7 linked regions of the Homo sapiens genome follow. The protein of the gene in region 6 interacts with the protein of the main gene of each other region in a biochemical or structural test. Each region holds a gene or a part of one and is shown on either strand. Other genes may lie near its edges. The genes, in order: PARD3B, PTPN3, PDLIM1, DLG3, RHPN1, GOT1L1 and PDZRN3.

The links.
Region 1: the proteins of GOT1L1 (region 6) and PARD3B interact in a test that uses a peptide from one of them, tested with the Homo sapiens proteins (one large-scale study listed by IntAct).
Region 2: the proteins of GOT1L1 (region 6) and PTPN3 interact in a test that uses a peptide from one of them, tested with the Homo sapiens proteins (one large-scale study listed by IntAct).
Region 3: the proteins of GOT1L1 (region 6) and PDLIM1 interact in a test that uses a peptide from one of them, tested with the Homo sapiens proteins (one large-scale study listed by IntAct).
Region 4: the proteins of GOT1L1 (region 6) and DLG3 interact in a test that uses a peptide from one of them, tested with the Homo sapiens proteins (one large-scale study listed by IntAct).
Region 5: the proteins of GOT1L1 (region 6) and RHPN1 interact in a test that uses a peptide from one of them, tested with the Homo sapiens proteins (one large-scale study listed by IntAct).
Region 7: the proteins of GOT1L1 (region 6) and PDZRN3 interact in a test that uses a peptide from one of them, tested with the Homo sapiens proteins (one large-scale study listed by IntAct).

Annotation. Positions count from the first base shown.
Region 1 is NC_000002.12:205,115,306-205,119,275, reverse strand, and holds part of PARD3B (partitioning defective 3 homolog B), read right to left. Parts: intron 356-3,970; coding exon 230-355; intron 1-229. UniProt on the Homo sapiens protein: Putative adapter protein involved in asymmetrical cell division and cell polarization processes. May play a role in the formation of epithelial tight junctions.
Region 2 is NC_000009.12:109,403,917-109,407,886, forward strand, and holds part of PTPN3 (tyrosine-protein phosphatase non-receptor type 3), read right to left. Parts: intron 2,703-3,970; coding exon 2,546-2,702; intron 693-2,545; coding exon 532-692; intron 1-531.
Region 3 is NC_000010.11:95,270,291-95,274,260, forward strand, and holds part of PDLIM1 (PDZ and LIM domain protein 1), read right to left. Parts: intron 1,495-3,970; coding exon 1,343-1,494; intron 1-1,342. UniProt on the Homo sapiens protein: Cytoskeletal protein that may act as an adapter that brings other proteins (like kinases) to the cytoskeleton. Involved in assembly, disassembly and directioning of stress fibers in fibroblasts.
Region 4 is NC_000023.11:70,493,123-70,497,092, forward strand, and holds part of DLG3 (disks large homolog 3), read left to right. Parts: intron 1-253; coding exon of another isoform or gene 254-353; intron 354-2,285; coding exon 2,286-2,331; intron 2,332-3,970. UniProt on the Homo sapiens protein: Required for learning most likely through its role in synaptic plasticity following NMDA receptor signaling.
Region 5 is NC_000008.11:143,375,155-143,379,124, forward strand, and holds part of RHPN1 (rhophilin-1), read left to right. Parts: intron 1-398; coding exon 399-514; intron 515-1,370; coding exon 1,371-1,499; intron 1,500-2,225; coding exon 2,226-2,301; intron 2,302-3,114; coding exon 3,115-3,192; intron 3,193-3,541; coding exon 3,542-3,666; intron 3,667-3,757; coding exon 3,758-3,924; intron 3,925-3,970. UniProt on the Homo sapiens protein: Has no enzymatic activity. May serve as a target for Rho, and interact with some cytoskeletal component upon Rho binding or relay a Rho signal to other molecules.
Region 6 is NC_000008.11:37,936,923-37,941,611, forward strand, and holds the start of GOT1L1 (putative aspartate aminotransferase, cytoplasmic 2), read right to left. Parts: upstream 3,203-4,689; 5' UTR 3,108-3,202; coding exon 2,993-3,107; intron 1,960-2,992; coding exon 1,778-1,959; intron 828-1,777; coding exon 716-827; intron 465-715; coding exon 355-464; intron 136-354; coding exon 43-135; intron 1-42.
Region 7 is NC_000003.12:73,387,108-73,391,077, forward strand, and holds part of PDZRN3 (E3 ubiquitin-protein ligase PDZRN3), read right to left. Parts: coding exon 3,911-3,970; intron 2,772-3,910; coding exon 2,709-2,771; intron 963-2,708; coding exon 861-962; intron 1-860. UniProt on the Homo sapiens protein: E3 ubiquitin-protein ligase. Plays an important role in regulating the surface level of MUSK on myotubes. Mediates the ubiquitination of MUSK, promoting its endocytosis and lysosomal degradation. Might contribute to terminal myogenic differentiation.

The sequences.
Region 1 (3,970 bases), on a different chromosome or scaffold from region 6:
GAAGGCTTGTGATATTCTGTAGTTTAGCATTCTCAGACCTGCCAGAGACATGTGTGGGCCACCTTTGAGTAGGCTAAAACATTAGAAGCATTCGAAAATGGATATCCTGGATCGTTCAAAGGGAACTGACTAGAAATTCTACCTACTATTTTGATCATAATGAGTTCAGTAATGCTTATAACCATGCTAGGGATCAAGAAAGTAAATAAAACAATGAAAAAATGCTTACTGAGCAAAGGTTTTGTCTACGAGATCCACATTGTTGATTTTTACAATACATTCATTTTCGTGAAATAGTCCCTCCCGCTTGGACCTGCTGTTGTCTTCAATGCCTCGGATGAAGAGTCCTAGAATCCTAAATGCAAAATTTAGATTGAAATATAATTACTGAATAATAAATGCTAATTATTTCTCCACTTGCAACTATTCAGAAATACATATTGATTTCTATTTACAAAAGAAATTTTACTTTATATTCAGGCAACTGTTTGTTATTTTAATCCCTAATCCAAAAAAAGCCAAAACTGACTACAAGAGAAAAAGCCCTTCTAGATAAATATGCATAAGTACCAACATCAATCTGCGACTTCATTTCTCATGCTTGCAGTAAACTTATTGAAAGGCTAGTTTACTGGAGTTGACACCAAAGACTTGTGGTTTGGAGAAGGGCATCACACCTGACTATAGTAAGTCTGAGTTAGTGCCAACGTGGCAACGTGATGTTTAGCAGTGGGAGAGCATTAGGATATTCACAGTAACATTTTTGCAGTCTTACTACCTATTCTAAAAATTTGCATTTTAAGAAGTAAAGAAACATTTAAGCTCAGATCATATTACTCAGTTTAGAAGGAAGCTGGATCCCATTTGTTGGTGCTACCAAATCAAGTATGTGTTGGGTGTTTCCTGTGTGATCAGGATGGAGGAGTATGAGACAAAGTCATAGGACCAGGACCAGGTAATTTCACTATACATTTGGGGGACAGCTGAAGTCCAAAAACTAAAGACATTAACAAGCCTAGAGCCTTCAAAGATTTGAGAGCTAACTAGATGGGAGACCAGTGCCACACACAAAGGCTTTGAACAAACAGCCAATGAACTTAATCTGATGGACCTGGAGGGGGGCATCTAGCAGACCCCGCTTCCGAGTAGGGCAGCGACATGATGAAGGCAGGCTTTGGGAAGAGTTGTCCAAAATTTCAACCAAGAAGAGGCTAAATTAGAGAGGATACAAAGAGGCCTCTGGATTTTTGTGGCTGTAGCTTAGAATCAGGAGGGTTGGAAGAGAAGGAAAGAAGAAAGAAAACTATAGCCACTAGAATTAAAATATGTGTGTGTGTATGTGTGTGTGTGTGTGTGTGTACACACATACATACACAATTCTGTTACATATATAAACCAAAACTAAACCAAAAACCGTAAGAAATGGAACTTATACATATTTTCATTATTTCTTATTTGTGGGATTTCCCTTCTCCTCGTGATGTGACAAGGCTTAGCTGTGTCCAGAGTAAGAAAGATAGATATGTCCTGCAAGAGGAGTCTGCTACATTTGGAGAAACTGTGATCTGCACTTTATCAATACTCTTGCTTTTCGACTTTGTCACTCTCTTTTGTATAAAATCCATGTGTGCTATTACAAAATACCTTCACATTAAATTTCAAACCTAAATAAAACATGAGTACATTTTATGTGTAAATAACAGGGTCAGCCATAGAAAAGGGGAATCTACAATGCAAGTATTAGAGAAAGTAGTCCTCCTGTTTGGAGTGGCCACGGAGTTGAACCTCTGTCCCCTTAATGAGCTCCCATCATCTCAAGACCTCAACAGGCATGGCAGTGATATTTGGGTCTCACTTCAAAATGTTAAATGAATACAGCACGCTGCTGCAGGAGAAAGAACAGCAAACAGCCATGCCATCTACTGCAGGGAAGGCTCAGGGTCATAGGCACAAGTGTGCAGTGGGGTCTTGTGGTTCATTTCCTAGTTCCAGTAGGTTAGCAAATTAGTCATATTCTGTGTTACTTTAATCTTGAAACACAGTATTAAAAATGAAACTATTTGACACATTAAAATAATAGATAAAACTTATGGGTTTTTTCCCTAAATTAAACAGCATCCTAAGAGTTCACATTTTGGATTTTTGTTAGGGTGGATTCACAATAACTTGATTCATTAGGAGGCTCACATGTGGTTATAAACGTGTTTATGTAAGTGATATTTTTTTAACAAGCATTCAAGTCTTCCTTTAATTTAATTCAGTACATCATCAGTCATGTAATGTTACTCCCTAGGATTTAATTTCACATTTTGGGAGATGAATTAATTCTTTCGGGCCACTGGGTTGCAATTTAGCTGGCATATTACAGCTGGAGTATGCTATGTGAACCTCACTGATCTAAATAATCTAACTTTCCATGAAAAATTTATTGACAGAATAAGCCCAACTGTAAAACCCATGTGTCAGAGGTAATTTTGGTAAAATGTAAAACTGACTGATTTTATTAGTTTGGTCCCTGGCAACAAACCACTTCTGCCCTCTCTGCTCCGTGGAAGGGATAGATTCCCTCCAGTTTGATTTCATCCAGACCAATACAAGAAGGCTCAGAAAACAATACCTCATTATCCTCTTTGCCCTGAACTGGTGGGCTGTGGTAGCTGTCTCATTTGGGACCAAGACTCGCAGAATTTAAAGATTAATGCTGTCGAGGAGTTATAGGCCGAGACTAACCAGTTAATTTGCATTAATGAACAGTGATAAAGGATGCTGAAATCCACAGCCTCACAGAATTAGAGGGGTAACAATTCTTCTTGCTCTTCTAATTATCATTTAGGCACCAACATCTTCTCCTTGCCCCCTTCCTGTTCTTTTCCCAATGTCACACAGCCTCAGTGACTCTACCAGCTTAGAATTTTGGTTTGAACATCTCTTCTCACAGTCTTTATCAGCCTTCATCCAGTCCTTCTCCTTCTCTCTCCTGTTTAGCTGTCTTCCCTATGAAACTGAGGCATATTATGCATCTGTACTGAAACGAATTAGATTTCATGTTTTTAATTCACAAAAACCACATTGATTTTAAAAATCTGAATAAAATTAAGTTGCATTTTAGTTGCAAGAACTTTGGTGTTTTTTTTATGTTTGCTTTGTTTTTACTGGGAAAGCCAATGGCCCTCAATACAAGCAGCATTCAGCACCCCTCTGCGATGGTATCTAATGAATTCATTGAGGCTTTATCTAGCAGAGCAGCCACTATAATTTACTTATTAGGATGATCTAACTTAGATTAGGTTTCTTATTCAACAACAGGTGTGGCAACATTTTTCTAAAAGAAAAAAAAATAAAAAAATACATTGGAGGCAAAGCCAATTACAGTAATCTTAGTAAAAAAATTAAATGTAAATTCTAATTTAAAATAATGGCACAAACCAATAAATGGAAGGAAATTAAGAGCAAAGTATACCACTATGACCTTAACGAAGCCCCTGTGCTCACACAGTGAAACCATATGGCATTATGAAGTCAGACACTTGTCTGACATGCTCTATACACAGTTGCATCTAGACACATGGGTTGAGTTAAGCGTGCTGTTTCAGCCTGTACTCATTACTCCTTAACTTTTATTGGCTCATGTCTCCACTTCCATAGCATTTTTAATGTTTTTTAATTAAATTTCCTTCCTATAATACTGGTGGATAGCAAAAAATAAATAATAGAACTATTTCACCAAGTTACTGAACAGTTAACCATGAACTTATAATAAAACTACATTTCTGAATCAGGCTTTTTGGTTTTAGCCAAAATAATCATCAGACTGATGATTTACACGTTCATACATTAGGTGTTTTACAAGGAACTTTCACATTTTTAATGTTATTTAATCCCCATAACCTTGATGTAAAGTAGGTACTCAAAAGGGGCAAGTTTAGGGGACTTGCTCAAGGTTATAAAAAAGAACACTGGGATTCAAATC
Region 2 (3,970 bases), on a different chromosome or scaffold from region 6:
TTATAGGGTTCTGGGCAACTTGGGAGGGCGAGACACTATGCCCTCATGGGATAACACTAATTGCTCCAAATTCCAGCACATGGCTGGGGGTGGTCAGAGAGCTGGTTCCTTCACCCACAGCCACCTCTCCACTGCCTTCCACTGCTGGGAGTTTTGAGCTTTTGTGTTGGCAGTTAAATACACTCAGAGTCCCTCCTCCTCAGTTTCTGGCATGTTTCTCCATGACTACCAAATGTTACTAGAATAAGAGGGTGAGACAGAGTTCAGCGAGGGTGGCCACCCTGATCCCTGCTTGCTGCTCCGAGCCTGAGAAGGGGGCTGCCTGCTGTGCCCTGTTATCCACGACAAGCACAGGCCTCGCCCTGTCAGTCCTCAGAGACTCAGTTGACTGCTTTTGGTTTGTGAAACACACAATCATCTCGACCAAGGAAACAAGGGCTTGTGTCTCTGCCTCATTTCCTCCACTGCTCAGAGGCAGGGGCAGCCCAATAGGCGACATGGCAGTGGGATTCAGCCTCCAGAGGGTCTTACCTCAAACTGGATCAGCACCGTCCCGCTTTCGAGGCCCTTCTTTAGCTGTGCCATGGATCCCTCCAAAGTGTCCCCACCCTCCGGACACATGGGGAAAATGGCTTCGGGGAAAAGCTGGTTCAGTTCATCTTCAGACTTGAAGTCAGCAAATGAGCGGACAGCTGTAACGTACAAGACAGTGCATCTGACTTGTGTAGCAATACTCAGGTTTATCCGTCTCCCTCAAACAAATCACACCTATGACACCTGAATGCAGATGGTTCAAAACATCTTATTAAATGATTAAGCTACATGGTAATCATTTTCACCAAAGATACTACTTCTAGGTGAATGATTCAATATGTGTTAATTACATAAAATGACATACTAATCTTCCTGGTTAGTTTTAAATAATGGTGTTTAACACTCAGAGGCTTTTGTCAAAGGTAAAGAAAAGAGAAAGAATGTTATTTAAAAAAGCATATTGTTTCTGCTTGCTCTTTCTGACCGGGTTATTCTTCTACCCATCCCGACTCCCCTTTCTTTCTCAGGTTTTTTCATTTACTTCCCTAAAATGGGCATTTCCTCAGGCATGAGGGTGAGGTCCCAAGCTTTTCCTGTGACACCATCATTCCTGAGAGCTCAATCCCTAACTCAGGGCCGTTTCTATGTGGGAGGCTCCCACGTAAATATCGTAGTCCTAGCATCTCTTCTGTGCTTCAGCCTTACCTCTTTAGTGCACGTTTTCCCTTCATGTTAAATTCAATACAGGTGAAAGCAAAGCTAGGACCACCCCCCCACAACTCCCAACCTTGCACAGGTGGGGAACCGGAGAGATCTGGTAAGGCCTCACGGAGGAGGTGGGGTCAGAGCTGGTCCTGGTGGCTCTGGACTGAGAGTTGCAGTGGGAGCAGAGCCGAGGCAGGAGCACAGCAGTATGGAGTGTCAGCCAAACGTGTGAGGCAGGCAGAGACGCAGGGCTTTGCAGACACAACCTTCATTTACTTTCAGTATTTTACAGCTGTGCACGGTGTTCAAGGAACTTGACGTATTATTTTATAACAACAACTATAAAGACAACAGTGTGATGCTCAGTAGAGGCTGTCCTTCAAACCTCTGCTCCCATCAGGCAGCAATGCAGGTACTTTCCAGTCTAAGTGCCATTGATTGATTGAATGATTGAGATGGAGTCTCACTCTGTCACCCAGGCTGGAGTGTAGTGGCACAGTCTTAGCTCACTGCAACATCCACTTCCTGGGTTCAAGCGATTCTCCTGCCTCAGCCTCCTGAGTAGCTGGGACTATACCCACATGGCACCATGCCTGGCTATTGTATTTTTAGCAGAGATGAGGTTTTACCATGTTGGTCAAGCTGGTCTTGAACTCCTGACCTCAAGTGATACACCCACCTTGGCCTTCCAAAGTGCTGGGATTACAGGTGTGAGCCACTGTGCCTGGCCCCAAGTGCCATTTAATCTTCACAGCAACCCTGTGAAGTCGGGACCACTGCTGTCCTCCTCCACACCTGAGCCAGCTGAACCACAGACTGGTTATGTAACCCCTGCAAGGTCCCCCAGCCCGCAGAGGCAGAGTGAGGAATCACCCGAGACAGTCAGACCCTGCTCTCCTCACTGCCTCCCCGACAAAATCAAACACGCACGAATAAAATATCACCAGATCCTTTAAGAAGGGGCTGAAAATGCAAATGTCTGCAGAGTCATGCCACTTAGAGAGTGCGTGATGTGGGCTGCGCTGGGCCTGGGAGGAACTGGGAGCTGGGGGCTCATGTCCTGTATAAAGGGGCTGCAGGGGCGCTGTCTCCCCCCAGAAGACTGGCCACATGGGGACAGGCCTCCTGGGGGCAGATCTTCACATTTTTCAAGTGAGAAGCCAAACATTCGGTTATTACCTGAAGATTCTTGATTTTCAAATGTTGGCTACAAACTCAACATTTTCAAGAGCAGATAAAGGGCTGGAGCAGGCGCAGCTTGGCTAGGACAGCTTCCCTATGGCTCCTCCCCCCAGGTGGCCATTACCTCTCCTCCTGATCACCAGGGCCAGCTCCCGTGAGTGGGACTCCCGGCTGGCTTTGATGAACATCACCACTTGGTCATGCGTGTGTTCTGAGATGTCCCGGCCATTGATTAACACGATTTGATCCCCTTCGTTCAGCTTAGGAATGCAGGTGTCCGCCTGGGTGGTGGGGAAAAGCGAGTTTCTCCTGTTACCATAACACAGTCCTTGGGGGAAGAACGCTGACTCGCTCTGCTCCCAGACACCTGGGACCATGATCAAGTTTGCCTTCTCTCCCTCGGGTAGTACTGTCATTATTTGTATAATGCATCCACTGCTATGTGGACATGGTAGATGGTTGTAAGATATAAAGAAGTACTGCTCAGAATATAAGTTATGAAACATTTCAGAATAAGGATATAAAAATTGCTGAAGCCATTTCTCCGTGGTAGTCAACCTTCACTTATTATAATATAACTATACCATTTCCAGCCTTTTGTTTCCTAGATGTACTGTTAGGAAATGATTTGCCAGCTAGAGGTGAGTATTTATCTGTCTTGCAAAGGTGAAAGCTTTTGTAAGCTTCACAACAGAGGCAAAAACCATTATGGAGAGAAGCAATGAATTGAACAGCACAGGAAAGAAAGCCTTCTGAATTTACAGAAACTGTAAACAGTAACAAAAGTTAAATGACAAGAGCTTAAGGACTACCTCAGAGTAAAATCCCAACGTGGTTCACTGTAAGGAGGCACAGTGACTCCTACTGCTTTAAAAAAGCAGATGATTAAAAGGTAACTATGGAGCCAGGTGAGGTGGGACACACCTGTGGTCTCAGCGACTTGGGAGGCAGAGGCAGGAGGATCGCTTGAGCCTAGTTTGAGGCTGCAGTGATCATACCACTGCATTCCAGCCTGGGTGACAGAGCAAGAGCGAGACCCTGTCTCTTAAAAAAGAAAAATAGGTTAACTATGGAAAGTGATGAACATGTTAATTTGTTTGACTGCAGTACTATATGTATAACAAGACATCATGTTGTACACCTTGAGTATGCACAATAAAAAAATTAAACGAAAAAATTACTTGATATTATTTTAAAAACAATAAAATAAATTTATTTTATTTTTGAGACAGAGTCTCACTCTGTCGCTCAGGCTGGAGTACAGCGGCGTGATCTCAGCTCACTGCAACCTCTGCCTCCTGGGTTCAAGGAATTCTCCTGCCTCAGCCTCCTGAGTAGCTGGGATCACACCTGTGTGCCACCACACCCAGATAATTTTTGTATTTTTTGTAGAGATGGGTTTCACCCTGTTGGCCAGGCAGGTTGGTCTCAAACTCCTGGCCTCAAGTGATTCACCCTCCTCGGCCTCCCAAAGTGCTGGGATTACAGGTGTGAGCCACTATGCCTGGCCTAAAAACAATAAAATAAATTTGAAAGAAAAACAAAGCAA
Region 3 (3,970 bases), on a different chromosome or scaffold from region 6:
ATACTCCCCCACACTCGATCCACCTGCCAGTCCTGTGCCACAAAGCAAAAAAAAAAAAGCAAAAAACATACTTCACAGATGAGAATCTAACCAAAGGCTCCATGACAAAGAGCTGTGGCAGCTAAGGTTAGTGAGATAACAGGTGATCAGAATGAAACATCTGAATTTGATGCAGTAGGAAACAGGGAGCCAACTGAGGGTTGAACCAAATCACTTCCGAAATCCTGCCTTTGCGGGACCCCTTCCAAGGCTAAATGAAAGAAGAATGGAAATTCTACCCTAATTACAGCTCCCAAGGTGCTACCCTCATTCATTCTTTTATCCCCAGCGCTCCTTGCTTGTCATGTACCTAAAGTTACACTCAGTACTCTGCTGCTAATGTGTTCAAGTTTTTCTCTGTTATTGCAATCTCCTGGCATGGTACCCACTGCTCAGCACAATGCAGTAGCAGCAGCATCCTAAGGACATTTTTTTTTTTGAGATGGAGTTTCGCTCTGTCGCCCAGGCTGGAGTGCAGTGACGCCATCTCAGCTCACTGCAAACTCTGCCTCCTGGGTTCAAGTGATTCTCCTGCCTCGGCCTCCCGAGTAGCTGGAACTACAGGTGCACGCTACCACACCTGGCTAATTTTTTAATTTTTAGTGGAGATAGGGTTTCACCATGTTGGCCAGGCTGGTCTCAAACTCCAGACCTCAAGTGATTTGTCTGCCTCGGCCTCCCAAAGTGCTGGGATTACAAAGAGAGCCACCGCACCTGGCCAGGACATTTTACTTACTCAAAATTTTGGTTGAGTTGGATCAAGTGAAAATGCAAGTATCTTACTGAAAGAAGCCCACATCATAAGCACCGTGAAAATCAGAGGGGGGCTGGGCACGGTGGCTCACACCTGTAATCCTAGCACTTTGGGAGGCCAAGGCAGGTGGATCACCTGAGGTCAGGAGTTCGAGGCCAGCCTGGCCAACATGGTGAAACCCCATCTCTACTAAAAATACAAAAATTTGCTGGGTGTGGTGGTGCACATCTGTAATCCCAGCTACTCAGGAGGCTAAGGCAGGAGAGTCACTTGAACCCGGGAGGCAGAGGTTGCAGTGAGCTGAGATTGCACCACTGCACTCCAGCCTGGGCAACAGAGTGAGACTCCGTCTCAAAAAAAAAAAAAAAAAAAATAGAGGGGAAATAAGCAATCTGAAGTTCAAATTCCACAGACCTTTTGGCATGCCTATAGTATATACATGGCACTGAGCTAGGAGGTCTGGGGGATTCTGAGATAGGGAAGGCAGTCCCTGCCCACAAACAGCTTCTAGTCAATCAGAAATGAACAAAACGTTTCCATAGGCTTCACCTGGCTACAGTGAGAGTCAAGTTGTCTGTGCAGCCTTTGATTCTGTTCTGAGCTTCCAAGTGTGTCATATTGCTAGTATTTTCCCCATCAATGGCTGTGATTACATCTCCAATACATAAATTAGCTAGAGCCGCCTTGCTTCCAGGAGTGACCTAGAAAAAAAGGGGAAAGCAGGCTAGTTACTATTTGTCTCCAAACCACTAAGTTACCACCAAGTTAAGTATTCACTGATATGGAGCAAAGCCCTGAAAAAGAAAAGAGGGCTGAAATCATAGCTTAAATAATAACAATCATTTATATTATCATTGACAAAGAGGGCTTTTCTAATATGATCTCATTGTATCCCTATAGCAACCTTATGAGAAAGGAGGACAAATAGCAGTCCCCATTTCCAAGACCAGGATCTGAGGCTTAGAAAGACCTATGACTTACCCAGGATCACCCAACTAGTATATTATTATATTACTGGTCCTCCAACTAGTGTATTACTGAGCCAGGAAACAAACCCCGAACAGATCTGATGTCCTTCCCACTGAACCACGTTTGCTTCCTTAAAATTAGTTAACAATTACATTTAAAAAAACACACACACACACATTTAGAGAACATTATATACTATAATACCCTATTTCTTTAAAAATCTTAATAATGTTATATATACAAAAGAAAGTGGAAACACTGCACACTAAATTGTTCACAGTTATACAGTTTTGCAATGTTTTTTACAATAATATTGAATTACTTTTTAATTTAAAAAATTGTTGACCAGGCATGGTGGCTCATGCCTGTAATCCCAGCACTTTGGGAGGCCAAGGCAGGCGGATCACCTGAGGCCACGAGTTTGAGACCAGCCTGGCCAGCATGGTGAAACCCTGTCTCTAACAAAAATACAAAAAAATTAGCCGGGTGTGATCTCAGCTATTCAGGAGGCTGAGGCAGGAGGATCACTTGAACCCAGAAGGTGGAGGTTGCAGTGAGCCAAGATCATGCCTCTGTACTCCAGCCTGGGCAACAGAGTGAGATTTCGTCTCAAAAAATAATAATAATAATAAAATAAAAATTTAAAAAAAAATTGTTAAAAGCAATCAAGGATATCCTAAAGTATGGTAGTATAGGTTTATACTGGTTTAATCTCCCAAAATGACTAGGGTCATTCCCTATAGACGGCTGGTTTTCTGCAGACTGATGCTTCTAAAACCAGTGGTTCCAAATTGACAGATCATTGATGCTTGGGGGAAGCCAATCAATTACTGCAATAGGTCCTTAAATTCACCTGCCTACAGAGCAATACATGCGGACTCAATACATATCACATCTCCTACACTGATGTACAACCATTTTTCAAGTGAATACAGATGCTATTAGAATGAACAAGATCCAAACTCATTTTGAAATAGTACTCACCTCAGAGTACTATCTCTAACCAAGGTATCTGGTTAGATTTTCTAAACTAAGGTATACTAAAAATATTACTGTCATCATCCCAGGGTAAGTTCACAACTTTTTTTTTCCACATTACAAGACCTTCCTGGATGGGAATTCCAAGTCCGCAGGATCAAGGTGGCAGTAACACCCCCAGGCTCCCAGTGCCCACAGGGCTCTGGCCACCCTTTGGAGAAGGCCCTTGACTCTCGGGATCCAGTTGAGGAAGATCTTATGAACACCTGGGTGTCTCCTTATGGCTGAACCACAGGTAACAGGTTCTTCAAGGCACCAAACCAGGACACACAAGTTGGGTCCTAAACCTCAGTATCTGATGCAGTTTTCAGCAGCTACAGTTTCCGATTAGCCCTCAGCGCAGCTAGTGTGGTGCCGCTATTATGGTGCATTCCCCATCAGCACCCTGACCCCAAAAAATGAGGACAAGTTGATCCTTGAGGTCCCTTCTGGCCCGCACATGCTATGACTTTATCAGGCAAAACTCTCCTGGAATGTGGCAGGATGTGGAAACCAGTACCGAGATCCTGACCTCCTAACCTTCCTTTCTGGCTCTCCCATCATTTGTTTACCAGAGATCTGGGTTTTAGGAAACGAAAGCAGCCTCCTGATTCAAGGTTCAGATCGTCCCCTCATCCAGCCACTGGGACAGGACTTTTTATCCAGGCAAGCACAGGCCGCTCTCATTTCAGTCAACAATGAGAGTTAGCTTCTGAGTCATCCAGTGCATGCAATAAAAAAAAATTCCTCCGTTTTCTGACCTGTTGTCCTGAGAAGACTGATCTGGTGCATCTTCATACACACTTCACTGTTACTAAAGGACAACGCAGGCTCAGTTTTTAAACGGCTCTAAGCATCATTTTATTTGGGATTGGCAAGCGTTCTTGACTGACAAACTCTAACTCCAAGGAGAGCAGCCTGAATCAAGGAGAATAATGCCTTATGGAACTCATTTATCATAGCTAAATCTAGCAGTTTCAAAGAGCAGTCCCCTTAGGATGAAATCCAAAATCTTTAACAAGGCCGCTAAAGCCAGTGCCTCCCTCCCCACCCACATCATGCCTCTTCCCCACTGGGCTCCAGCTACAGGGCCTCAGGACTTTCACACCTGCCTTTACCTCTGCCTGATTAACTTCTCATCTTCCAAGTGTCTGTGTAAACAACCCTTCTTCTCAAAGAGGCCTTCCTTCA
Region 4 (3,970 bases), on a different chromosome or scaffold from region 6:
AGGAAGTACCAGTGAGTGTTATGAGTGTCTGGATTATGTAGAAACTTCTAACATCCCTACAACATTTTCTTGTAAACATAATTTTCCTCTTACATCAACTTTCATTTAATCTCATAGACTCCATTTGTGAGAGATGGTCTTTTATTTAGCTCACCGTTGTCTCCATTTTAGTTTTTCTTGCATGCTTTAAAATCCATTGTTCTGTTTTTTTTTTTCTTCTGTCCTTCCCCTCCATCTTCATGTTCTTTCACAGTCGATCAAAACGAAACGTAAAAAGAGTTTCCGCCTCTCTCGAAAGTTTCCATTTTACAAGAGCAAAGAAAACATGGCCCAGGAGAGCAGCATACAGGAACGTAAGTAGCAGCAGAGTCCAGAGAGCAGGCCATCTGCAGCCCCATCCTCTCATCCTCAGTTGCCCTTCCCTCGAGAGAAGCCTGGGCAGGGCCACGTGTGGCCTCGTGCCTGCCTGTGTGCGTGTGCACCTGCTTATCTACAGAGTCAGGGCAGAAACTGGTCTGCCTAAGGAGATGTTGGGTTTTATTTGTCCTGCTCCTCAGTTAGAATGAATGTTGGAGGCACTGAGGTGGGACTGGTCCCAGGGTCAGCCTCCAGGAAGTGCCTGGCACTAGCAGTGGAAGTGCCAGACAGAGCTCTGCTGTGGTGGTGAGGAACGGTTTTTTAGCTAGACTGTCAGGGTCAGGAAAATGGTTTTTCAAGAGAACAAGGTCTAGGGACTCAGTGTTGCTCTCCTGGTTTCTTCCTCTTGTGTTTTCTTTCCCTTAACTTCACTCATGTATGTCAAGAGAAGAGCCTTTTCTTCCCAGGATCCCTGGAGTTGGGGCTACTTCTGGAATCCCATGCACGTGCATAAGCATACAGGATATCCACACAACTCTCAGCAGACTCGCTGTCATCCTAGAGTGCCTACAGAGCCAGTTTTCCCAGGAGAATCCTTCCTGCTTAAATGAGTTGACATGGAAGGAGTGTTGCTCCACATTGTTCAAATAAAGATCTATTGAGAAACACAAAGTTGGTTCGGTAGGAAGAGCAGTCACACTGAGCTAAATTCAACGGAAGAAGAAATTTAATCCTGATAAATCTTCTTGCTCTACCGTGTGCCTCAGCAATTAACTGCTCCAACCTTAACCTTAAACACCAGGTCTGGCTTGAAAAATGTCTTCTCACTTGTCTCATCATGAACAGTAAACATCTCTCATTTACCAGTGACTCCTCTGTCTTACATGGAGGGATCTTGGGGTCTTGGTCTATTGGGGCTGGCAGGAGACTGACTGGTTCTGATAGGAAATGTCCTTCTGTCAGGCCAGCTTGGTCCACAGTCATGGTATGTGTAAGTCATTGCTATCTGGGGTGGTACCTGGTGGACAGAAGGGTGCCCTCATCTAGATGGCAGCCACGGCTCATCATCCTGGAGTAGTTCAATGAGAAGCCATAGACGGGGTGGCTCTGCTCATGAGCAGTTAGGAGACAGTCTGAGTCAGAGGCCTGAGGTGATGTCACCATAGTTTCATCAGATGAGTCCCAGAGTCCCTCCATGCCAAGCCCAGCCTGGGGAGGTGTTCATTGCTCAGTGGTCCCGCCTGGTGGGCGAGGGGGTATCTACTGGATGACAGAGTTGAAGGTGCCTAGTGCTTCTCCAGAAGCTGAGCTCATCCCCCAAGATCTGTCCAGCTCAGGGCAGCTTTGGAGGCCACACTCTACACCATGCGAAACTTTTCCTGAAGGGTTTGAACAGAGTGAATCAGTATTGGGCAAAGGCTTCTTGAGGTGATGGCAATTCTATCTGCCTACCTGGCACACGCGGACATTTGCTCTTTCACGCACTGCAGAGGGAAATGGTGATTTCAGGGGCAAACAGAGACCTGGGCTCCACAACCAAAATTTAGTCAAAGCAGGTGCTCTAAGCCTTGGAGTGTCACCTGTCCTGTCCCATTGGCCTACAGCTGTAGACACCTCAGAAAGCTAGTCTACTCCAAGGCCCTCTGGCAATGAATTGGGCAGCATGAAGTCTTGATGTCTTATCTGCCCTGGGATGTTCTTTCTGTGGCAAAGTTCCTGGCCTCACTATAGTGCTAGGTCTTCATGGTGTTTCATAATTCTGTCACTAGTGCTCACCTACCTCTGTATTCTTCCTCCCCCCTTGTCTTTTTCTCTATTTTTTCTCTTCTCCCCAAATCTCTCCCTCTCTTCCATTCCCTCCCATCCCTTCCCCTTCCCCCCTCTTCTCCCCGTCGTCCTCTCTCCGCCCTTGCTGTCTGTGAAATCAGGACTTCCCGGGGTTAAGTGACGATTATTATGGAGCAAAGAACCTGAGTAAGTCCAACTTACACACCGTTCACTGTACTTGTGGCATGAATGGAGATAGTGGGGGTGGGGCTATTGGGGACATGGGTGAGGGTGAAGGGTGAGGGGAGGGCAGTGTTTGTGAGCACTCTGACATCACAGCAGGAAGAAGTGCATGTGGCTCCATATGTTACATGTTTGCTATGGATCCCTAGTACCCAAATAAGTCCATATCATTCATGCCTTTGTTTACCTTTTGCTACTCAAAGTGGGAGGGCGTGAGCATGGCATCCCACCTTAGAAGTGAAGTAAGCTTGAAATGTTTCTCCAAGGTAACCACTCAGCTAATCTCTAGCCTATTGTCGAAGGGAGGGGTGCCTGCTGGTTGGATTCTTCTCCCAGTGATACCACGCTAAAGAATTGGGTGTAGGAATTGCAGCTGTTAACAGTCCTCTAACTAGGGGCAAGGGTACTGTGACCCCTTTTTCCCAACCTGCATCTGAGATGTCCCAGCAGATCCCGGGCCTCAGCAAACAGCCACTGTTTGGCTTCCCACAGAGCACCTGTAAGGGGTTGAGCTGGTCTGCTAGGGGCCTCAGCATCATTTATGGACCATATATAGTTAGTGCTTTATCTCAGGAAAACTCCAACCTCATTTTCCTTTCTGGAAAAGAATCCTGGAGTGGAAAATGAAAAAGACCTAGATGATGAGGCCTTAGTGGCCATCCTGCTGCGTGCAAGGGTGCACAGACACCAAATGGGTTCTATCAGCATATACTCTCCTTCAATAAATAATACAGACCAAAGGCAAAGGAGTTGCCCATGGGGATTGTTCAGGAACTAGCCATGTGTGGCAACTCAGCCAGTCCTTTCTGGGTGGGGGGGCCACAGCATATCATGGTCTGGAACAGTGTGGTCTTGGCTGAAATGAGCAGCATCTCTCTCCATAGTTTGGTGTGTCCATGTCTCATCTTCATTCGCGTGTCATCTTGGATGGGCGGGCTTTGTTTGTGCCTCCTACGAGCGCTGCTCCTCCGCCTGAGCTTTCTTTTCCCTCACCACTAAGAGATGGGCAGATCCCAGCTGTGTGAGACAGGAGGGCTGCCTTGTCCTCAAGGTGTTTTTGTTGGTTTTGTTGTCTGTGTTTTGACATATGTGTCTGGTGGTGGATGGAGATGCTTCCCCTCTCACCACTGAAGCCAGGCTCTCCTGCTTTGGAGTGGTGGCAGGAAGGCTGGGGAGCCCACCGAATGGTCAGAGCAGCGCTCCCTGGTGTCTGCTTAACCCATCCAGCGTTTGGCCTCTTAGTTGTGGAGTGCCACATGGTTCTGTACTTCAGGGGCTCTGTTGGGCGGGGGACACCCATGAGCAGACTGGTCCCTGGACTTCTCTTTGCTCCTGTCACTGTCTTTTCTTTCCTGTTGTTAGCCTTGGGAGATGCATTTTGAAATACGATTTGGAAACCATCCAGGTCAATTTGATTCAGATGAAGAGGATGCTGCTGAAGGAAGTATGGCTTGTAGTACATAGGGAGGGACTTGGCAGACCAAGAGGGCTCTGGGGACAAGTACGAGAGGGCCAGGGGCTCAGGATTGGAGCTGTGCCTCCCAGTTGGTAGCCTGGATGTGGCAGGCCTCTGGTGGCCTGACTCAGTTGGCAGCTCAGTGTC
Region 5 (3,970 bases), about 110 Mb from region 6:
AGAATGAAATCCAGAAGCGCAGAAGGAAGGCTGTGAGGAGCAGTGGGCCGCCTCCTGCAGGGCTCCCGGAGCCCCTACTTGTCCAGGCTGCCTGGTGAGACCCTGGCTTCTGGTGTCCTTGGCAGGTGCCAGCCTCCCCCGCTGACCCCCATCACGAGTCAGCAGCTTACCCCACCGACCACGTCCTTCTGCATTGACTGCCTCCTGTCCTGCTCTGGCCAGGCCTGTGTTCACACTAGTTCTGTCCAGCCCCTCCCTGTGAGGCCAGCTCCAGCCCCAGCGCATGGTGACCATCCCGTTACCCATGGGCAGGATGCACTCCTCTCAGTGGCTGGCGAGGCGCAGCCTGGTGCGGGCGCCACGGGGTCGGGCTGTGATCGCCTGTGGCCTCCCTGCAGGGCTGTGACTCCCTGACGCAGATCCAGTGCGGCCAGCTGCAGAGCCGCAGGGCCCAGATTCACCAGCAGATTGACAAGGAGCTGCAGATGCGGACGGGCGCTGAGAACCTCTACAGGTCAGTGCTTGAGACTGCCCGGCCCCGGGAGCAGGGCCCACCTGGGTGAGGGGGGCAGGACAGCCACGCAGGCAGATGTCTGCCCCATGGCCGGGTCACAGAGACAGGTGCATGAGCAGCTGGGTCCTGGTGGGCACGTAGTACACGTGATGCTCAGCCATGACCCTCACAGACCTGCCTCCGTGGGCCTCTGTGCTGGGCTGGAGGTGCCAGGAAACCAGTGTCCCTGCCGGGTGTGCAGCTTGGGAAGCCCCAACAGTGCACGTGGGGGCTTCTCAGAAGAGGCATGGTTGAGGCTGAGCTGTGGCAGGTGATGGCGCGTCCCAAGGTTGGGGACCTGGGAGGGGGTGGAAGACCTGGGCTGCCTCTTCCTTAGAGCACACCGCCTGTGTGCCACACATGTGCGTGTGAGTGCCCCTCGGTCCCCTTAGCACCTGCTACCTCCCTGCCCCCATCCTGGCCTTCCCTGGGGACCTCCGGTCCCTTTGCCAGGCCCTGATGCAGGCACAGAGAGGTGTGTGGCTCTCACCCACCATCCAAGGAGTGATGTTTGAGTGCTGTCGAGGGCTGTATGAGCCCCAAAGAAAGCCGTGGTGCTGAGGGAGGTGCCCCCAGGCCAGAGTCGGAACATGCAGGTGCTGGGGTCGGGGTGATGAACTGTAGGGGGCATCACCTGTGAGCCCCCGGATCCCACTGCTGCCCCTGCCCCACCCATGGGGGGCAGACCCTGTCAGCGACGTCCTCTGCAGGGTGGGCTTGGAGCTTTGACAGGTCAGCTGGCAGGACGGCTGCAGTGGGCACGGGGCCTTTGGCTCTGCCTTGGGGCTGGGCTTTCAACTGCCGCGGCCTCCCTCAGAGCCACCAGCAACAACCGGGTGAGAGAGACGGTCGCCCTGGAGCTGAGCTACGTCAACTCCAACCTGCAGCTGCTGAAGGAGGAGCTGGAGGAGCTCAGCGGTGGCGTGGACCCTGGCCGGCATGGGAGGTGCGGGTGGGGGCCGGGACAGCACGTGCGTGTATGTGTGTGCACGTGTGCGTGTGTGTGTGCATGTGTGTGCACGCATGTGTGTCTCTGTGTGTATATGTGTGCATTGTCTGTGTGTGTGCGTGTGTGCATGTGTGTGCATGCATGTCTGTGCGCGTGTGTCTGTGTGCATGTGTCTGTGCATCTCTGTGTGTGTGCGTGTGTCTCTGTGTGTATATGTGTGTGCATGTGTGTGCATGCGTCTGTGTGCGCGTGTGTCTGTGTGTCTGCATGTGTCTGTGTGTGCATCTCTGTGCGTGTGTCTGTGTGCACGTGTCTGCGTGCGTGTGCATGTCTGCGTGTATGTGGGTGTGTGTTTGCCTCTATGTGTGCGTGTATGCACGTGTGTCTGTGTGTGTCTGTGTGTGCGCGTGTGTGTGTCTGCACGTGTGTGCATATATGTGTGTGCGTGCGCATGTGTGTCTGCATGTGTATGCACGCATGTGTTTGTGTGTGTGTGTGCGCGCGCATGTGTGTGTCTCTGTGTGTGTGTGTTTGCTTTTGGGGCGGTTTAGGACGGTGGGGGGTGGTGCACAGGTGCAAGGATGCCCCCCAGGACACAGGCGCACGTGCACACCCATGAGGGAGGGAGGCACCCTGTGCCACAGAGCCCTAGGAGTGGACCCCGGGCTGCCGTGGGCAGCAGGGTTTGGCCTTACAGTCTGAAGTCGATGCTTCTGGTTACAGCGAAGCTGTCACTGTCCCCATGATCCCCCTGGGCCTGAAGGAGACCAAGGAGCTGGACTGGTCTACACCGCTGAAGGTAGGTACTGGCCTCCAAGCTCTGAGATACACGGCCCTGCCCTGGGACCAAGGGGGTCTTGGAGGCTTTCTGGTCCAGCTGTCTGGTTGAACAGATAGGGAAACTGAGGCCCAGAGGGAGGGAGGCTTAAAAGGGACGCAAGGGACCTGGCAGAAATGGCCACAGGGACCCAGCCTCTGCTGCGTTCAGGGCCCCGCTGGTGCCTGCGCCCCAGGCCGGGGCTGATCCCATAGAGTGGGTGTGAACATGTGCCCTACCCTCGGATGGGCAATGCCCTAGGAGGATGGGGCCTGGAAGCCCCAGCCGGAGCACAGGGTACAGGCTCGCCCATGGAGGGCACCACTGGCTTGGGGCCACACACCCAGCACTGGCTCACGAGGGTCCTGGGGAGAGCTAGAACAGACTGGCACTGCCTGGCAGGGCCCCACGGGAGCCACTGACTGTGTTCCGTGTCCGAGTCACTGAGTGGCAGATGGCACCTGCCTCCCGGCCACGGGGATGAATAAGGAAACGCACGTAAAAGTAGCGCTGAGTCTCCAGGCCCCGCTTCTGTGATGGGGTGGGGAAACCCCAGGGCCACAGGGGCTCCGACCCGCATCAACCCACCAGGCCCCTCCATACACATTGGCCCCCAGCCCTTCTCTGGGGCTTCCACTGAGGGGCCCAGGGCCCCCACGCTGCATGGCAGCCAGCCTGCTCTGCGGCACAGACCCTCCCTCCACCATGAGTCTTTTCCCAAGGTGGGTTGGGAGACCTCAGGGAAGGAGGCCAGGCACAGGGGTACTGTGGATGCCAACACCTGCCCCCCATCAGGAGCTGATCTCAGTGCACTTTGGAGAGGACGGCGCCTCCTACGAGGCAGAAATCAGGGAGCTGGAGGCCCTGCGGCAGGTGTGTGGTTCCCCCGCCCACCCACCCTCCTGCAGCCCTGGGAGACACATGCGGAGGCTGAAGCTGAAGTCAGGAACAGACAGAGGAGCTCAGCGTAGACATCTCGAGGACGTGGGGAGACGGGCGCACCAGGGGCCCTGTGTGTCCAGACCCAGCCAGGGGGCGTGGAGGGGCTCCCAGGTGGCTCCGGTGCCGCATGCTGCTGGCCTTCGGGAGTCACGGCTGCCCAGGGCCCCACTGGCTTTGCCTCCCCGCCCCCCATGGTGCTGGTGCCCATGGGACTTCCCAGGGCAGTGTGTGTGAGTGGGGTGGGCCAGGGCGGTGGGGCCCAGTGGCTCCTGCCCTGCAGGCCATGCGGACCCCCAGCCGGAATGAGTCGGGCCTGGAGCTGCTCACAGCCTATTACAACCAGCTGTGCTTCCTGGATGCGCGCTTCCTCACCCCTGCCAGGAGCCTCGGGCTCTTCTTCCACTGGTAGGGGCTCTGCGGGCGGAGGCACCCTGGGGAGGGGAGGCCCAGCTGCGGGAACCGTGGGAACTCCACCCAGCCTGACCCAACACTGCAGGTACGACTCGCTTACTGGGGTCCCGGCCCAGCAGCGTGCCCTGGCCTTCGAGAAGGGCAGCGTTCTCTTCAACATCGGTGCCCTCCACACGCAGATTGGGGCGCGCCAGGACCGCTCCTGCACCGAGGGTGCCCGCCGCGCTATGGAGGCCTTCCAGAGGGCCGCTGGTGAGGGCGGCCCGGGCCGCGGTGGGGCACGGCGCGGTGCCAGGGT
Region 6 (4,689 bases):
GAGAGTCAAAGACAGGAAGGTCGGGTGGGAGATTGGGTTTACCTTTATCATGGACATCAACTTTGCCCACCCACTTGGTGTCAACTTGCAGTCGATAATGTTCCCCATCACAAGGACACAGCCATGTGGGATCTGCTGCAGGTACAGACGGTCTCATCAGGCTTCACCCCCACCCAGGAGTGGCGGCCCCAGGGCATTTGGGGGTGAAGTGCTCCTCCATGTTAGTTACCATTGAAGGGCCAGGCAAATTCAAACCTGGAAAAGGTCTTGGATGACTTAAGAGGTGTGGGGAGGAGAGGAACATTAGGCTGTAAGTCAGCTCTAGGGAGGAGTTTCTGAGCGGGGCCCCTCTACCTCCACCACATTGAGGAGTATGTCGGGGTCCATGCATAGCTTCTTGGGGTCCCAGACAGAGTATTCATAAACTGTAAAGCCCATGTCCTGGAAGACGAGTCCATGCAGTTCTGTGGGAACACAGCCCCCCACTAGCTGGTACATGGGAAACAGAGAGACGGAGACAGAGGTACTGGAGTGTGGGGCTGAGAGTCACTGGCTGAAGGTGGGACATTAACAGGAAAAGGACATAAATAGCTTGGCTTGTCTGCCATTTTGCTCATGACAGAGAATGAGGGATAACAGTGAAGATGGCAAATGGGGTGAGGATTAGGAACAAGGGACGGGGATTGCTGTTCCCCTCATCTTGGGTAAGACTAACCTTTTTGAGAAGAGATGATGTAAACTATACGAGCATCCTTATGCCAAGCTCTGAGAAACTGGACGCCAAGCTGGAAGGCACCACTGTCACCAACAGTGTGTACACCCCCTACCTGCCAGCAAGACATAGACACAAATAGGCCAGGTGTGGTGGCTCACACCTGTAATTCCAGCACTTTGGGAGGCTGGGGTGGGTGGATCACTCGAGGTCATGGCCAACATGTTGAAACCCCGTATCTACTAAAAATACAAAAATTAGCCGGATGTGGTGTTGGGCATGTGTAATCCCCGCTACTCAAGAGGCTGAGGCAGGAGAATCACTTGAACCCGGAAGGCGGAAGTTGCAGTGAGCGGAGATCAGGCCACTGCACTCCAGTCTGGGTGACAGAGTGAGACTCCGTCTCAAAAAAATAATAAGTAAATAAACATTAAAAAATAAAAAGAAATAGACAGAAATAACACTCTAAAACAGTAATGGAGGCGAGACGCAGTAGCTCATGCCTGTAATCCCAGCACTTTGGGAGGACGAGGCAGGGAATCCCCTGAGGCCAGGAGTTTGAGACCAGCCTGGCCAACATGGTGAAACCCTGTCTCTACAAAAAATACAAAAATTAGCTGGGCGTGATGGCACATGCCTGTGATTCCAGCTACTCAGGAGGATGCAGCACCAGAATTGCTTGAACCTGGGAGGTGGAGGTTGCAGTGAGCTGAGATGGCACCACTGCACTCTAGCCTGGGTGACAGAGTGAGACTCTGTCTCAAAAAATATATATAATAGGTTAAAAAATAAAACAGTAATGGGAATACTAACACCACCTCCAATTCAGATCATTCCTGTCTTGAAAGAGCTTTCAAATCAGCAGTGTGAGCAGGTGGGAATACCACTGGACTGAGATTCCGATCCTGACTCGATGGCTAAGGACTTGTGGACTCTCTGAGCCTCAGGTATCTCTTTTATCAATACCAGGGGGCCCTCCGAGGTCCCCTTCGGGTTTAAGGTTGTGCAGACCCAGATCGCCACTCTCTGTGTCTAAATGAGCCAGGGGAGGGCCCACCTTCTCACCCTGTTCTCCACAATGGCTTGGCTGTGCTTTCCAAAGAGGAGTGCTAGAGAGGCCTGGATGAATGATTTCAGGCCCATGGTGGGCAAGTACTCATAATTCAGGGAGGGATCCTGTGAAATCTGTAGTCGAGTCTTCTGCACCACGAGAGAAACCCAGGGATGGCCTTCATTTGTCATGCAGACTGTGAGGAAAACCACAGAGGGAGCTCCAGATGCCTGGTTTGGGCCCCCAGGGCTGAGCTCTGCAGACAGCCTGCAAACAAATCTCTCCTGGACTCCATGGGGCTGTGGGAAGGTGCCTGTGAAAATACAACTTTCCCTTTTCTTTTCTCCTTGATGAAAAGAATATGCTGTTAGTGAATGTGTATTATTTTTGTCTTTTTAAAAAAGACAACTGAAACCTATGCCATTTTAAAGGTTAAAAATTATACAAGCCCAGGATTGGTGGCTCAGGCCTGTAATCCCAGCACTTCGGGAGGCTAAGGTGGGTGGATCACTTGAGTTCAGGAGTTCAAGATCAGCCTGGGCAACATGATGAAACCCTGTCTCTACAAAAAAATACAAAACAGCCAGACATGGTGACCAGCGCCTGTAGTCCCAGCTACTCAGGAGGCTGAGGCAAGAGGATGGTTTGAGCCCAGGAGGCAAAGGTGGCAGTGAGCTGAGATCTTGCCACTGCACTTCAGCCTGGGCAACAGAGTGAGGCCCTGTCTCAAGAAAAAAAAAAAAAAAATATATATATATATATATATATATATATATATATATATATATGCAAAATGAGAGTTATAGGTAGATGAAGCTAAATAAAGGTAACCCTGACTTTCACAGTGGTGAGCCCCAGTTGCATAGCAGAAAGCTCAATCTGGAGAACCATTCTTGGTTCAAGAACAGGAAGAGAAAGAGAAAGAGAGAGAGAGGAGGTAAGAATCTGAAGAAGTGTGGGATGGCCATGCAGGCCCCCAAGCATAGAGTTGTGGAAGAGGACATAGCTCTCACCAAATCCCTAGAAGCCCCCAGAGAAGGGCAGAGAGCATGGAATGACCTGGGACCTTATCTGCACTTTTCCCCACTGGGTAATTCTGTTAACAAGAAAAGATCTCTCCACCCACAGAAGCTTGGGCTGCACCCCTCCCCCTGCAGCAGGGAACACTGTCCTCCTAGAGGCAGTTACCATCACTTAAGTCTTATACTTCAGAACTGCTAGGCATCTACCTCTATAGGCTAAGAATATCTTGTTCGGGTAATCATCTTGTTTGTAGGTCTTTAACAAGCTGCCCTCTAGCTTGTGGGCGAGGGGCACATCCATGAACACTGAAAGGGTGGGCATAACTGAAACGAAACTGGAGCCAAGACTATGTGTCTCTGCTCCTGTGTTCCGCTTCTGCCCAGAAGTCTTCCTCCAAGGCTGGGCCGGGCAGTCCTGCCTCTTCCTGGAACCTTGGCAGCCCCAGTGCAGAGGCGCTGGACAACGGGTTGCCAGGGCAACAGAACCTCATGATCTTTGTGGTGGCGATCCACAGGGGCCACAGGAACATTCCAGGGTACTTGAGGAGAATCCCCTCAGACAGCGGGCAGGGCAGGATAACAATCTCCGGAATTCCCAAGCCCGTTTCCCTCACTCAATGCCTTCTCTTCTCTAGCCCCAGGTGGCTCAGTCCAAAGTAACAAGCCCACTCCTTAGATGACAGGGCAAGGATAATGGGAGATTACTTAACAGATACAATGTACATTGTTGGGGTTATGGATACCCTAAAAGCCCTGACTTCACCACTATGCGATGTATGCATCTAACAAAATTACACTTGTACTTCACACATTTATACAAATTAAAAAAAAAAAAAAGAAAGAAAGACATAGGGCAAGGCAGGCAGCCAATAAGCCAGATAGGGCTTCTCCTGCAGAAGCAAAAACCCCAGATCACACACCAATGCAAGTCGAGGCATTGATTTCCATTTTGCAAAGTGCCCCAGATTTCAAAAGGAATAAAAAGCAAACACTGTTTTCTTCCACAGTTGTTTTAATAAAGAATCCTATTATTAGAATATAATTGGCAACTCACTAAGCCAGTCCTATTTCTCTCAGTTATCTAGAGCCAAGACTTCTACATATGTTTGTTAAGTTTCTTTTTCTTTCTTTTTTTGGTTTTTTTTTTTTTTGAGATGGAGTCTCACTTTGTCGATAGTCTCGAACTCCTTGCCTCAGGTGATCTGCCTGCCTTGGCCTCCCAAACTGCTGGGATTACAGGCATGAGCCACCACACCTGGCCATTTGTTAAGTTTCAATGACAGCCAACTAGTAAGTATAGACAGCAGAGGCCAAGGGGAGAAAAGAGCCAGCCTCTATAGAGTCAGTCTGCATATTGCTTGCTTTCTTTTCCTTTTGATGTTTAATGACTCTCTCTTTTTTTTTTTTTTTTTTTTTGAGACAGAGTCTCGCTCTTGCTGCCCACATTGGAGTGCAGTGGTGTGATCTCGGCTCACTGCAACCTCTGCTTCCCAGGTTCAAGAGATTCTCCTGCCTCAGCCTCCCGAGTAGCTGGGATTACAGGCATGCGCCACCACACCCAACTAATTTTGTATTTTTAGTAGAGAGGGGGATTTCTCCATGTTGATCAGGCTGGTCTCAAACTCCAGACCTCAGGTGATCTGCCCACCTGGGCCTCCCAAAGTGCTGGGATTACAGGCGTGAGTCACTGCGCCCGGCTTTTTTTTGTATTTTTAGTAGAGACAGGGTTTCACCACGTTGGCCAGACTGGTCTCAAACTCCTGACCTCAAGTGATCTGCCTACCTCAGCCTCCCAAAGTGTTAGGATTACAGGCATGAGCCACCACACCCAGCCTGATGTTAAATAACTCTTTAAATGATTGTTGCAAACACTGTTGATGTCTCACCCAGAAGGCCTTCACCAC
Region 7 (3,970 bases), on a different chromosome or scaffold from region 6:
GTGCCTTTTGCCTTCCACCATGATTGTGAGGCCTCCCCAGCCATGTGGAACTGTGAGTCCATGAAACCTCTTTTTTCTTTATAAATTACCCAGTCTCGAGTATGTCTTTATCAGCAGCATGAAAACGGACTAATACACATACCTAAAGAGATCTACTACTGGATTGCCCTAGATGTGTTGCTGGAGCCATTCTAAGTGGATCAAGAGTGCCACCTGGGTGAGTTCATGATTCCTCCTGTGGAAGGAGTTATTACAACACAGAGGTTTCTGAATCAGATTACTTGGGCCTGAACCCCTCCCTGCTTTATCACCCTCCTTCTGGGCCTTTCCTGGGTAACTTTTGAATCTCTGGGAACTTCCATCTCCTGGGAAGGCTCTCCTGTGTGTAAAGTGCTCCACGGAGGGCCTAGCACTTATTCGGTGGTCATATCAGTTTTAATTATTTATCATTCAATGTTTCTTTTAATTTGAAAGAGCAAGTTTTAATTCCCCATACTCTGCTATTGTAAATGAAACCTGCACAGATCAAGGCTGGAACATATGTCAGGCCTTGGGAAGTCAAATGTCTTGACGTGACCCCGGTTGTGTTTTCCATTCAATTCTGTTTCCTTTTCCTTCCCTATGATCCCTGCATTAATGAACGTCGTGGGCCTGCAGTATAGATGCCAGGGTGGGCATCTAACCAACCTTAAATGGCTAACTCATAAAGTGAATTCTGAATCACAGCAAGTTTGATTACATTTCCAGGGAACAAAGCACCTTCAAGTTCGCAGCCAATACTCAGGTGCTCTTTTGCAGGCCTGGGGATCTTTTGATTTTAGAAATATAGACCCAGTTTCATCTGTAGGAAGCCAATTTACCTGGAGTTCAGGCCTTGCAATCAGCAATGAAAAGTTTTTATTTTCTTCACTGGTTAGAAGAGCCACAGCCTCTTCACGGTTCTGCACCTCTATCCCATTAATCTTTTAAAAAAAAAGGGGGGGTGGGGAGAGTGGGGAGACAAATAGCATGATTAGATGGTGCAAAATCATTCTATTTTATTTCAGACCTGCATTTGTCACCCACTCACAGTTAGAACATACAACTTCCGTGTAGCTGGAAAAGAATACTGATGTTAGGAAGGAAAGGTCTTGCTCAGACCAATGCAGTTTCTCTGGTCTATAAGGGAGCCTCCATGAGTATAGTTCATGAGGTGACTGTGATGTGTGGGGTGTGAACAGAAGGGGCTGGACCTCCAGAAGACGGCACTGAGAAAAATCATAATGCTCTGCAGAGGGAACATGGAAGCAATTAGACATAATATTCAGGCAGGAGTATATGTAGACATTATTGGATAATATAGAAGAAAAAGCAGCAAACTGAGGTTAAGAAAATGGAATAGAATTATACATGGTGTTTTGTGTCCCCAGTTTGACACTTAAACTTCTTTGGGCCAGGCGGAGGGTCAAGTGGGCGTGACACTCTCACTATCACACTTGATTAACCCTCTTGCAGGATTTTTGCTTGCATGTCCTGGTGACTTTGAGCCCTGCTGGTCTGGAGGTCTTAGTCCTGGTGGAACGCCGCCTCCAGGGGACACAGCAATGGTTCCACTGAATTGGAAGTGGAGGCTTCCATATGCCTCCTTACACTAGTGAGCCAACAGGCAGCAAAAGGGGTGACTCTATTGGTTGGAGTGATTGCCCTCAATTACCAAGGAAGATGGGCTTGCTGTGACACAGTGGAGGCAGGGAGGATTGTGTCTGGAACCTAGGGGATTCCTTGGAGTACCTCTGAGTGCTTCCATTCTCAGTAGTAAAGGTTAATGGAAAACTCCAGCAATCAAAAAAAAAAAAAAAAAAAAAAAAAAGAGGCAGTATGCTGAGGACCCTGACCCTTCAGGTGTGAAGGTTTGGGTCACTTCCCTAGGGCAAGCGATCCTGAGCAGCACAGGTTCTGGCTGAAGGCTAGAGAAACCCAGAGTAGGCAGTGGAAGAAGAAAATCAAAATGACCTGTGGTGAGGTATGCAATGAGAAAAACACAGTGGATTAAGAATGAGAGGATACGGATGAGAAGAGGTAGAAAGCTAAGCCTTGTGGACACAATGAAGCCAAGAATTTCAATTCTGTGAGATTAAAGAAGGTTGTAGCCAAAAGAGACATGAATGGTCTCATTTGGACTAGACGGAGCAACAGGGCTCGAGGTCAAGTAATGACCCTTAGAAGCGATTCCAGGATGGTTAGATGTTGAGTCAGAAAATTTCTAAGACTTTTCAATCGATGCTGCTAAATTTGCCAAAAATGTTCCCCTTTTATGGACGAGCCTCTGAAATGCTTGGTCCAAAGTTAATCTTTCAGAGAAATCTAAAACGAGAATTATTTTAGTTCACAAGTTGTAAACTGTTGGCCTGACTTTGGCTCACTGATGTTTGTTTTGATCCAAACAGAATGAAACAAAATAAGGAGAACTGGCTCAAATTTTGCAAGGCCCTCTTTGGAGAGAACATGCCCCATCTAGTTTGTCCCAGTCCTCACCACTCCCTCTTGCGTCTTATGACTCAGAGATAGCCTCACAATTAGTTTAACTTGTCTGGCCTCACTACACATCTGCGTTTGTGATCCCTGTTCTTTAACCGCTTCTGCATTTTCAACCCTAGACCTATCATTAGAACCAGTTTGTTCTTTAGTGATAGGCCCATCATGAGGCCATTGTTTGGAAGTGGACTTACCTGGATAATGCGGTCTCCTTCTCGGATGCGCCCATCCTTGGCTGCAATGCTGTTAGGGTCAATCTGAAACACACATGGACCATCTCAGCGCAAACGCAGACATGCATGAAAATAAGCAACAGCACTTTCAAAACCATTTCTAAAACACAGTCATGCTCACCCCTGTGTTTCTGTTTTGCACAGAAATAAACAAGACTTAGTGTCGTGCAAGGAGAGGCAAACATGAGCTGATCTGCTTCTAAGCCCTTTCTAGGGCTGGTTCTTGGATCCCTGTGTAGCAACCCTGTTACACAGCAGTGTGTGCAGGCTCTGCTGATCTGAGGAGGCACAGCTGACTTTTGTTGCATGCATGGTAATTAAAATCAAATCAATGATGTAGAACAGGTTAAAGGATACCCTTCATTATGTGGACTAGCAACTATACCTTATTTTATACCAAATACTTGTATTAAAATTTGGAAAATAACTTTAAAATTGAAATATAATTGGGACAAGGGGGACTGGTAAGGGGAGGGATGTCCCCAAATGCAGAAAGGATGGGTTAACTTAAGCTTGGTGAATGACATACAACCAAAGAGATAATTATTAAGTCTAGTAGATCATTCTGTAGCGACAAATTTTATTTCCTGACAAAATTGGGTTTCTGTGTTTGCAAGGATGGGTGTGCACTGTAAAGTTTCCATACTGAAATCAGTTGATTTGTATTATCTTCTCAAGGAAGATCAAAACAGCGTGCATCTATGTAGTTTGATAAGTACATACAAGTCACATTTAACTTATATGAAGTCAACTATATATACTCCACCAAGAGAAAAAAAAATGTGTGTGTGTGTGTGTGTGAGAGAGAGAGAGAGAGAGGCTTTAAAAAGTGTAAGTGATTCCATCCACCATTCCACTCAATGAACACGAGTTGGGAAATGTGAATCTGCTCTTCCCTTGGGGCTAAACACACAAAACCATGTAAACGGCTCCATTTTATGGCTGATTTGCAGGCTTCTCAAGGGTAATTTTGCCATAAGTACTGGCATTAGAACTTAACCTCCGTGGAAAGATGCAGCGCCATGGAGTGTGATGAGGGGGACAGAATAATTTGTGTCTTTCCAAAGAGATCTTGATGAGGTGGGTTAGGGTTGGTGAACATGAAAAAAAAAACCCTTTTGGTCTTGATACGATAGTTAGAAAAACAAAATCAGCCTTTGTACCTCACTGATATAAATCCCAATGTCGTCTTCATCGTCCGTCCGGTAGCACACAGTGAGGCC